3 linked regions of the Homo sapiens genome follow. The protein of the gene in region 3 interacts with the protein of the main gene of each other region in a biochemical or structural test. Each region holds a gene or a part of one and is shown on either strand. Other genes may lie near its edges.

Region 1 (3,653 bases), on a different chromosome or scaffold from region 3:
CAGGCTGGTCTTGAACTCCTGACCTCAAGTCATCCGCCTGCCTTGGCCTCCCAAAGTGCTAGGATTACAGGTGTAAGCCAACATACCCGGCCTATAACACAGTTTTAAAACATAAACTAAGGCATTTATATAAATAACATGCCCAGTTCATAGAACTATATTAGTATAATTATAGTAGTTACAATTTACTATTTTAGTTATATTACTAGTTACAATTAGCTGTAATTTAGAAACCTTTTCCTTCTTAAATTTTATTTTTAAAACGTAATATTAGTGCATCCTACCTTTGCCCTGTGATAGCTAGATCACCACTGTATGCTGCTTACATGTAATTGTGAAACATGACCATATCATTTGTAAAACACTTCAACTGAAAATAATTAAGTGCAAATCAGTTTTATAACTACGAAAATAATTAAGTGCAAATCAGTTTTATAACTACTAAAACTGTTTAATAAAAGTGTTATGTAAACGGCAATAAGATGTGAATATTATTGATTAATATTATGTTCATAAATGTTCTTAAATTTTAAGTTGAAATATACAAAAATCTCAGGGTTCTAAAGACAGTCTTTTGGTACCCTATGTTCAAAATAGCTCTGAACCAAGAAAAACACACATGCAGATCTCTGCAGGTGCTGCCACTCCACCAGGGCATCCAGCATCCAGTCAAACACCAGATTTATGTAATTTACATGATGCGAAGTCTCAGAAAGGGCAAATCTAGAGACTTATGTGGTTGTCGAACAAGAGACATCATTCTCAGGTTAAATTAGTACTTCTAATGAGAACTGCCCTTCTAGCATCATGCCAGACCAGATAATCCATGACACCTACATACACATCTTAAATGCCTAGAAATGTTGAAGAAAATATAACCAACATTCTTTAAAATGCATAGCAAAATCTGTAAGGGGAATTCCCAGAGCCCAGAATTAAAAACCAAAAATTATAGTAAGCGCAACAAGCTGAGACTGCACCTGCCATGGGTGGGGTTTTGGGAAGAGGGAAGGGAGTAAAAGATGGTACTCAGTCTTAATAAAGTGGAGGTTTGGGTTTTGATGCCCTCATGGAAAAAGAAGATGAAATCTTAGGCCTGTATGTTGCAAGAATTTAGAATTGAGCGCCCTTATATCAATTAGGAAACTCGAATGGCTAGTCTTTCAGTAAATGCATGGACTTGAAAAGATATGCCTTATGACAGAGATAGCAAAGAAACTTACCAAAGAAAGCGTGGGCTCTAGAATGAGAAGAGAAATGTTTTTCCTGAGAATTCTAAATCCTAGATACATATACTGTGTAAACACTAGCTAACAAAAACAGCTTAAATGACTATATTATCAGATCAAAATATGTTTAAGGGAAAAAGCATTGTTAGAAACAAAGAACGTTACTGATAAAATAAACAACTCATCAAGAAAACAGTAACAATTCTGAATGTGCTGTATCTAACAATATAGCCAAAAGTATACAAAGTAAAAATGTGCAAAATTATAAGGAGAAAATGACATAGCTATAATCAAAGAGGGACATTTTCACCACAGTAACTGATAGGTCAACCAGACTAAAGATTAGTAAGGATATTGGAGATCTGAACAATTGGATAAACAAAATCAAGGGAGTGAATGAAGACACAATCCTACACTTAATGATTAAGGAACATTTAAGAAACATTTGTAAAAACTGATCCCATGCTAAGCCACAAAAGAAGCTTTACATATTTCAAAGAATTGACATTATTAAGACCATAATGTAAAGTCAGAATCTACATATAAAAGATCCCCCTATCATATGTTTGGAAACTGAAAAACTCATTTTCAAATAATTCTTGGATCAAAGAAAAAAATCAGTTACTATTATTGCTGAATGACAATGAAAATATTGGGTTGCCAATATCAAAATTTTGTGACTCAGCTAAAACAGTTGTAAAAGAGAAATCTACAGTTTCAAACACATACATTAGGAAGGAAGACAGATATTTAATGAGTTAAGTGTCCAACTCAGGAAGGTAGTAAAAGAACAACAGAGTAAACTCCATGAAAGAAGAAATAAAGACACTAGCCTAAGTTAATGAAACAGAGACTATCTCGTGATATTAAAATTTCTCTGGAGAAGGCAGAGTGCCTATCCCTTTAAGTGCTAAATGAAAAGATAAAATATTTTTACGATCCCAATTTAACCAATGAGTGGCTTACATAATATTGATAATTAACCCTCAAAACAACTCAATAGGGAAAATAATATTATTGGCAACCACTTGAAAAATGATGAAACTAAGGCAAAGGGAGGTTAAAGAACTGGCTCAAGATCCCACAAGTGGTAAGTGGAAGCCAGAATTTGAACACAATTGTGCTGATCCAAAAGCCTACGGTTTGTCTCTCAGCATCAATGCCTCTGTTCTTTCGTTAAAAATTTATAATTCTGGGATAATTGTAGATTCATGTACAGTTGTAAGAAATAAAGAGATCCCATGTATTTTTCACTCAATTTTCCCCAATGAAAACATCCTGTATAACTACAGTATACTGCAGGAAACTGACATTAATACAGTCCACTGACCTTTTCCAGTTTCATTTTTATGTGCACTCATGCATATTAAGTATATTTAGTTCTATGTAATTTTATCACATGTATAGATTTGTGTGAATACCACCAGTCAACACACAAACAACTCTATCACAAACATTCTTCATGGTACCCTGCGATAGCCATAGTTGCCTTCTCCCTTTACTTCAATTCCTGGCAACTACAACTCTGTCCTCATCTCCACAACTTTGTCATTTCAAGAACGCTATATAAATGGAATCGTATAGTAGGTAACCAATTGAAATTGGTTCTTTTCACTCTGCACAATTCCCTTAAGATCCATCCAAGCTGTTGCACGTGTCAATAATTTGTTCCTTTCTTACTGATGAGTAGTATTCCACGGCATAGATGTGGTAGAATAGGCAGATAAACAGACATGAGGAGGAGAAGGGCTGCCCTGAGAAAAGGAGTCTGGAAAATCTCATGCCCCAGGGATCACCCCAAACAGGCGTGCTAGATATGAACAGACAGGAGGGGAAATACCTAGGCAGAAAGGAATCCCCCTTAAGACCCCAGTGATTGCTCACTCTGCCAGTTAACCTGCCAGAATGTAGCTAGATGCATGCTAAAGGGAAGAGGGCAAAGGAGAAAATTCCTAAGAGATACGCAGAAGCAATTTGTGTCCAACATCGGGTTCACGCGTGCACACCAATAGTAAGGGAGGGTCCCACAACCTTGGGGCGGGAACTAGGTGAGGGAAAAGGCAGGGACTTAAGGCAGATGCAGAAAACTAAACAAAGTAAAAAGGCGGAGACTTAAGAAAGAGGCAGGAACTTCAAGAAAAAATCTGAAATCATAAAAACCCACCACTCTCGGGGTGCTGCTGGCTCACTCTCTTTCAGCAGCTCGCCCTGCCTCATCTTTTCAGAGTGTACTGTCTCTCTAGATAAACTCCCTACTCTGTATTTTCCTTCAATGAATTCTCTTTCTCTGGCTAAACCAGTAGCTTGGCAGAATTCTTTCTCCAAATAAGACTAAGAACCAAACAGTAATAGATGTACCAATTTGTTTACCCATTTACCCACTGAAGGGCATCTGGGTTTCTATGAGATTGGAAGAATCAAAAT
Region 2 (3,653 bases), on a different chromosome or scaffold from region 3:
TTGCTGGATAAGTGGGGCAGGCATGTGGCCCAAGCGGGTGGCCAATCAGGGCACCCCAACCCCTGCCAGCGATTGGTGGAGGGGCTGACTGTGAGGCAGGCAGAGCCAATCAGAGGCTGCCCTGAGACTTCCCATATGACACTACAATAGAGACAGTGTGGAGCCAATGCAAGGACAGACCACTGGGACAGAATGGAGAGTCCAGAAACACACAGCCACCTGTGCAGTTCAGTGGGGAGAGCTTTTACTGGAGCAAGTGGATTTTCAAATGGAACCAAAAAATGAACCTTGACCCCCTACTTCACACCACATAGAAAGATGAATTTGAGGTACCTCATAGACCTGGATGTGAAAGCTAAAACCACAAGCTCCTAGAAGGAAACAAAGGAGCCTCTCTCTATGACCTTGGGGTAGGCAAAGGTGTCTTAAGTAGGACACAAAAGGCACCTGCGCTGTGGGGACTGGGTCACCTTTCCCGCCGCGTGGAAGCCGCCTATTGAAGCACAAGGCCGATGTCCTGGCTGTGAGGATGACGTTCCCGCCTCCCATGCGTGCCTTTCCAATACCTGGATTAGCCAAGTTCACTCACCTCACCCCAAAGTGCTTTCACCCACTCCTGAGAGCCCGGCCATGGTGTGCTCAGAGGCACAAAGTGCAGAGTGGCCTCCCCTCCCACCCATGTCCTGCTGGTCACCCAGGGCCTGGCTGTGGTGAGCCCTGTTTCCAGAATGCCCCACGACCTCCTCTAGCTGCTTCCCTGAAGGGGCTCCTGCAGACCCTTGAGAGGCTCGCCCCGAGTCTTGGTCCAGCCTTAATTCTCTAGAATTCCTCTAACCCAGCTAGAGCCACGCCTGCTATCTGGGCCTCCCCACCAGGCCATCTGTGCTGGAGGATAACAGGGATGGGTAACCCCAAAAGCAGCAGAGAAGCAAGGAACCTAGAACGTGGGGGTGACTCTGCCACAGGGTACTCCTCTGAGGGAGGGGCCCACATTGGGGCTTATATCTGCATTCTCAGCCTGATGTACTGGGGGCGGGGCATGGGGGTGTGTGCTGCTTACACCCCATTCCTACATGCTGCACACACTCTCCTGTCACACAGGAAACCTGTCACCATCAGAGTGTGAGAGGAATGAAGCTGACATAGCGGTGCAGTGCCAGGGACTGAGGAGAGCAGGTGCAGGGAGGGGGTGGCCAGGCGTACCTGCTCATACCAGGAGGCCACGGTGCTCTCCATGTACTGGTAGCTGGTGAAGAAGGCCACGATGCCATCAGGGACCACAGCGGACATCTCCAGCAGGAGGTTCCCATAGTTCCGGATCACAGCTGCAAGGGGTCAGAGGTTGGGCCCTCTCCTGGCCCAGGTCCTCCTCCCTTCTCTGTCTTAGAACTAGGAGTTTCTGGAAACCCCACTGAGGCTGCCTGTCAGGCTTTTCACACATATCCCCCTCCTCCTCCTCCCGGGCGTGTCTGAGGACCCGCCTTGCCACTTCCTGAAGTCACACCTGGCTATGTGATTTGCCATGGCCAATGAAATGAGTGCAGAAGGGGCCGGGCGCTGTGGCTCACGCCTGTAATCCCAGCACTTTGGGAGGCCGAGGCGGGTGGATCATCTGAAGTCAGGAGTTTGAGATCAGCCTGGCCAACATGGCGAAACCCCATCTCTACTAAAAATACAAAAATTAGCCCAGCGTGGCGGCAGAGGCCTGTAATCCCAGCTACTCGGGAGGCTGAGGCATGAGAATCGCTTGAACCCGCAAGGCAGAGACTGCAGTGAGCCGAGATCATGCCACTGCACTCCAGCCTAGGCAACAGAGCAAGACTCTGTCTCAAAAAAAGGCCATGTGTCACTTCCAGGGGAGCACCCTTAGGAACCAGTGCACAATACACTGTGACCACTGTGATCCCACCTGTCACATTATGCTGCCTCTGACACACCCAGCGGTGGAGGTTCCCAGGTGAGGAGACACAGGGCAGGCCCCTACCAGCTCACAGTGGACGTGTACCACGGGCAAGAAGGAAACTCTGGGCTGAGCAACTAAGGCCAGGGATATTTGTTACAGCAGCATGACTCAGCCCACCTGACTGATACACCTCCCCTCTTGGAACCCACAGAAACCAGCCCCACTGGCAGCATACCAATATCCTCCCGGGTCTCAAATTTGGAGCTGATGGCCACCTGGTCATTGCCACGGCCGATGATCTGGAGAGCAACAGAGGTCACGATAAGCGAGGCAGCAGCAACTGCTCCAGCGTGAGTGCTGACCACCTGCTGGTGCTGTTCTAAGCTTTTTTTTTTTTTTTTTTTAAAGAGAGACAGGGTGTCACCATGTTGCCCAGGCTGATCTTGAACACCTGGCCTCAAGTGACCATCCCGCCTTGGCCTCCCAGAGTGCTGGGATTACAAGCATGAGCCACCACACCCAGTCTGCTCTAAACTTTTTATAAACACAGTGTCATTGAATGAACCCTCAGCAACCCTGTTATCTGCATTGCACAAATGACCTGGGCTCAGAGAAGGTGAGTTGCCTGCCCAAGGTCACACAGCAAACAGGTGGCAAAGATGGAACCGGACCCGAGTCTGTCCACACTCTCCAACAGCAGCTACACTCTAGCCAGCCCCAGGCCCTGGGCCAGCCGGATCCCGAAGAACACCCCTCGCCATGCCGGCGGGCATCCCACCAGCCGGCAACCTCACACAACCACCATGCAGTGGGGGTCATTACCGGTCCACAACCTCTGACAGGCAACTCCAAAAGCCAAAAGCTCTGAACACATTTCTTTTTCAAGTTTGGCACAAACTCATGAAGCAGCAAAACCTGCCCTGCCCCGAGTCTCTCCAGAGGCCTGACTTACTCCTTAGTGTGATGCTTCCCAATCTTTTACTGCCGAAATGGGAGTTTGACTCGGGGGAGCTGCCCAGACCCCACTGTGGGCATCACACACCACACAGCATAGGCCTTGTCTCTAAAGGCTGGAAAATTCTGAATTCCAAAACAAATGGCTGCGCGCAGTGGCTTACACCTGTAATCCCAGCACTTCGGGAGGACCAGGCGGGCGGATCACTTGAGGTCAGGAGTTTCAGACCAGCCTGGCCAACGTGGTGAAACCCCGTCTCTACTAAAATTACAAAAATTAGCTGGGCATCGTGGCACATGCCTGTACCAGCTACTCAGGAGGCTGAAGCATCAGAATCACCTGAATCCAGGAGGCGGAGGTTGCAGTGAGCTGAGATCCGTGCCACTGCACTCCAGCCTGGGCAACAGAGCAAGACTCCGTCGCACAACAAAAACAAAAAACCACATCCAGCCTGGGGACTTCAGATAAGGGACTGAGGGCTCATGTTGACATGCACGTGTTACAGAGACGGAGACGGAGAGGAAGGCTCACTTACCTGGGTCACAGCCAGACCACGTACTCGGCAAGATGCTAAGATGCTGACTAAGCGCCTACCTGTGCCAGGCCCTGGGCGACCTAAGTGGTTTACCCCAGTTCTCTCTCTCAATCCTCTCAACCACCCTGGGAGATCAGGGAGGATACATTCCCATTTCACAGATGAGAAAACTGAGGCTTGAGAGTCGAGCCCACAGAGAAGCAGAATCAAGCCTAAGTCTGTCTGAATCCCGAACCCAGCCTCTTCGCTGTAAAGCTCTC
Region 3 (3,653 bases):
CCCTTACTACACCATGAGCTTCTAAAGCACAGGGAGTATGTCTCTTTTATTCTTCATCGAGTCATCATTACAGTGCCCAGCACACAGCAAGTATTCAAATGTTTGCTGAATAAATGAACACATGCCAAAGGTCTGAGAGTCCGTATCGCAGAACCTCAAGATAGAAAGAAACATTACAGGTCTTCTAATCCAATCATCTTATTCTGAAACAATGGAGGTCAAGGATGCCCTATGATTATTTCATTTACATACCATATGTTCTTTTTGTGGCACAATCAAGGTATAATTAGTAAACAGAAGGAGCCCTTAATGATGAACTGATCCAATCCCTTCCCTTCACAGACGCACAAAAGGGCTTCTATTTTTGGTAATCTTTCCATGGTTGTATTTAGTAGCAATGACTCAGAATCTTACAGAAAGAAAGTTAAACTGGCCCCCACAGGAGGATTTTAGAAAACAAAAGAAAATGAGCTCTAACAAATGTTGATGAAATAGTCCACTGAGTAGTTTCTGGGTTGTTGATACAGGCAGCACTAAGTGTTGTAGGGTCCCAATAAAGGTACATAATTAGGGAACCATTTCACCTCGGACCCCCAGTGGGGCTGTGGTTCTGCCAAAGTTAAGAGAACTGAACTTTCCATCTTTCCTTGAAAGAAAGGAGCGAATGAGAAAACTTGCAGCTGAAATAGAAAATGCTAGTTGTGGCAAACAGAGCAAGTGCGGGAGCTGAAAGGAGGAAGGGTGAGAGATCAAAGATTGAGAGGGAAAGAGAAGAGGGATATGAACACAGAGAGAGATTAAAAAATGGGGTGAGGCTAGAGGGAGGAAGGAGGGGAGGAGGGAAGGAGAGAGAAAGAAAGAAGGAACTACAGTGCGACCCAGAGAGAAAAAAATGGAGAGTAGAACAGAAAGTAGTATCCCCATATCAACCAGTAAAATAAAATAGGGAAATAATAAAAACTACATTAAGAAAAACTAAATTAATAAACGAAGCATGCAGTAAGCCGAGATCGCACCACTGGACTCCAGCCTGGGCAACAAAGCGAGACTCCGTTTCCAAAAAAATAAAAATAAAAATAAAGGAAGCATGTTTGGAGCACCTGCAAAAAGAAAACCTAAAGATAGCAGTAACAGTGCTGAAACAGGAAACAATCATCCCATAAGGAACAAGAACATTCTAGAATCTACAGAAAAGTAGAATGGAAAAAAAAAAAAAAAAAGAATCCAGGCAGTCCCTGGTGAGAGGGATATTCATATCAGAAAAAATGTTCTCATTTCTACATTTATGCTTTGCATATAAAATGTTCTTATTCTAGTGTACCAATCTCAACAAATCCTTAATCATCTTCCTAAAGCCCTGAGTTGAAAAACTTCCCTCTACGAATGTGTATGCATATATGTGTATGTGTGTTTGTGTACAGACACACTATTTAGAATATCTGTAACCTGTGTGACTACTATGCCAACTATTTCACCCTAAAAGGGCAAACTCCTAAATGTTATCTGAGTTTAACTTAATCTGAATATGCTACAAGGTCTCGGAGAATCCCTTAACACAAAACATTTCTTCTGAAATTTTGAGTTCTTTTAAGAAATATTCTGGTGTATTTTCTTTCTCCACATAACAATCTGAAGATACCATGTTAGTAATCCAGTCCTTTTGGGTTAACTCCTTGAAGATGTTTCTTGCTTTATTTAAGTCCAAATAAACAGGCATCATTTCTGTAGTTCTTCTGTAGAAGAAAGATAAATTAAGTATTTTGTTAGATTATCTCCCTAGATGCAAAGTTTCTTCTAGAGCTTGCCCCATTTCAACAAAATTACCTTTTTTCTCAAGTGTGTAACTATAATAAATTGTCTAAATCCAAATGCAATGTAGTAAACATGATTTTTTCTAAAATACCAAAAAATATCAAGGCTGCTTTAACTGTATATACCATAAGACTTTAACTCAGATGCTGTCTTATCTGTAATAGATTAAAAAAATTAATATTTCCCAGTTTAAAAAAAATAGCCACAGAGGGAGGCTGAGACAGGATAATCGCTTGAGCTTGAGAGATCAAGGCTGCAGTGAGTTGTGAACATGCCACTGTACTCCAGCCTGGGTGACAGAGCAAGATCCTGCCTCAGAAAAAGAAAGAAAGAAAAAAAGAAAAGAAAGAAGGAAGGGAAGGAGGGAGGGAGGGAGGGAGGAAAGAAGGGAGGGAAGAAGGGCGGGCCATAGAAAAAAGATAAAGGTTTTTCGAAGGAAGGAAGGAAGGAAGAAAGGACTGACCACAGGAAGGAAGGAAGGAAGACAGAAAAAAGATAAACATTTTTCCCATTTCTAAAAAATACATCCATTTCTTCCCGTTAAATGGACTGAAAAGTGGGAACCAAAAGAGAGGGCTTCTGACCAATAATTTCTTAGTACTTCAATATAAAGTTATTAATGAAATGTTTAAGTATCTTCTCATGGAAGACCTTCTAATGGAAGGTCATGCAGCCATTAAATTATGTTACCGGCTGGGTGCGGTAGCTCACACCTATAATCCCAACACCAGGAGGCTGAGGTGGGAGGACTGCTTGAGGCCAGGAGTTCAAGACCAGCCTGGGCAACATAGCAAAGCTGCTGTCTTTACAAAAGCTAAAAAATTAGCAGGAGGTGGTGGCACGTGCCTGTAGTCCCAGCTACGTGGAAGGCTAAGGTGGGAGTTTTGCTTGAGCCCAAGAGTTTGATGATGCTTGAGCCCAAGAACCAAGATGCTGTAACTCCAGCCTGGGTGATGGAGTGAGACCTTGTCTCAAAAAAAAAAAAATTACCAAAAAAGATAGAATAAAATGTAAAATGGGCAAATATTAGGTAGAAAACAATGTATAAACAATATGATCCAGCTGGGCATGGTGGCTTACACCTGAAATCCCAGCACTTGGGGAGGCCAAGGCTGGTAGATTGCCTGAGCTCAGGAGTTCGAGACCAGCCTGGCCAACATGGTAAAACTCTGGCTCTACAAAAAAATACAAAAATTAGCTGGGTGTAGTGCCATGTGTCTGAAGCCCCAGCTACTCAGGCTGAGGTGGGAGGACTGCTTGAGCCTAGGAGGCAGAGGTTACAATGAGCCAAGATCACAGAACTGCATTAAAGCATGGGCAACGACAGGGCAAGACCCTGTCTCAAAAAAAAAAAGAAAAAAACAAAGAACCAGTATGATCTCATTTTTTTTAAAAGAATACATTTGCATGAAAAAATATAATCATATACGTAAGTGCTAGCTATTACTCTTAAGTGATGGATTATGGAAGATTTTCACTTTCTTTTTATTGTGTGTATTTTTGACATTTTCTACAGCAAACATATATTTACTTTTGTTAAAAAAAATTTTTAAAAAGGGATGAACACACAGCTATTTTACTCTCCAATCATTTTTTTATCCTCTTTCACGGTACTCTTAATACAATTTAATACAATTAATTTATTACATATATTACCTTTTCCTTAAAAAACTTCCAGTTAGACAAGCAGGAGATGAAAATATCTCTTGGATTTCCCTATATTAGTAATAAGACACTGGTTAAACCAAATCACATGGTATACATACATACAGCCTCTTTCTTTACAGCATGAGACATGATAAATACCACATCTTATAACTATCCTTCCAACCTCTCCATTT

What was found.
Region 1: the proteins of HERC5 (region 3) and UBE2E2 form a complex in vitro, tested with the Homo sapiens proteins (one study listed by BioGRID).
Region 2: the proteins of HERC5 (region 3) and ERCC2 form a complex in vitro, tested with the Homo sapiens proteins (one study listed by BioGRID).

The regions. Positions count from the first base shown.
Region 1 is NC_000003.12:23,528,219-23,531,871, reverse strand, and holds part of UBE2E2 (ubiquitin-conjugating enzyme E2 E2), read right to left. Parts: intron 1-3,653.
Region 2 is NC_000019.10:45,353,527-45,357,179, forward strand, and holds part of ERCC2 (general transcription and DNA repair factor IIH helicase subunit XPD), read right to left. Parts: intron 2,203-3,653; coding exon 2,139-2,202; intron 1,326-2,138; coding exon 1,204-1,325; intron 1-1,203. UniProt on the Homo sapiens protein: ATP-dependent 5'-3' DNA helicase. Component of the general transcription and DNA repair factor IIH (TFIIH) core complex, not absolutely essential for minimal transcription in vitro.
Region 3 is NC_000004.12:88,470,489-88,474,141, reverse strand, and holds part of HERC5 (E3 ISG15--protein ligase HERC5), read right to left. Parts: intron 3,529-3,653; coding exon 3,469-3,528; intron 1,734-3,468; coding exon 1,640-1,733; intron 1-1,639.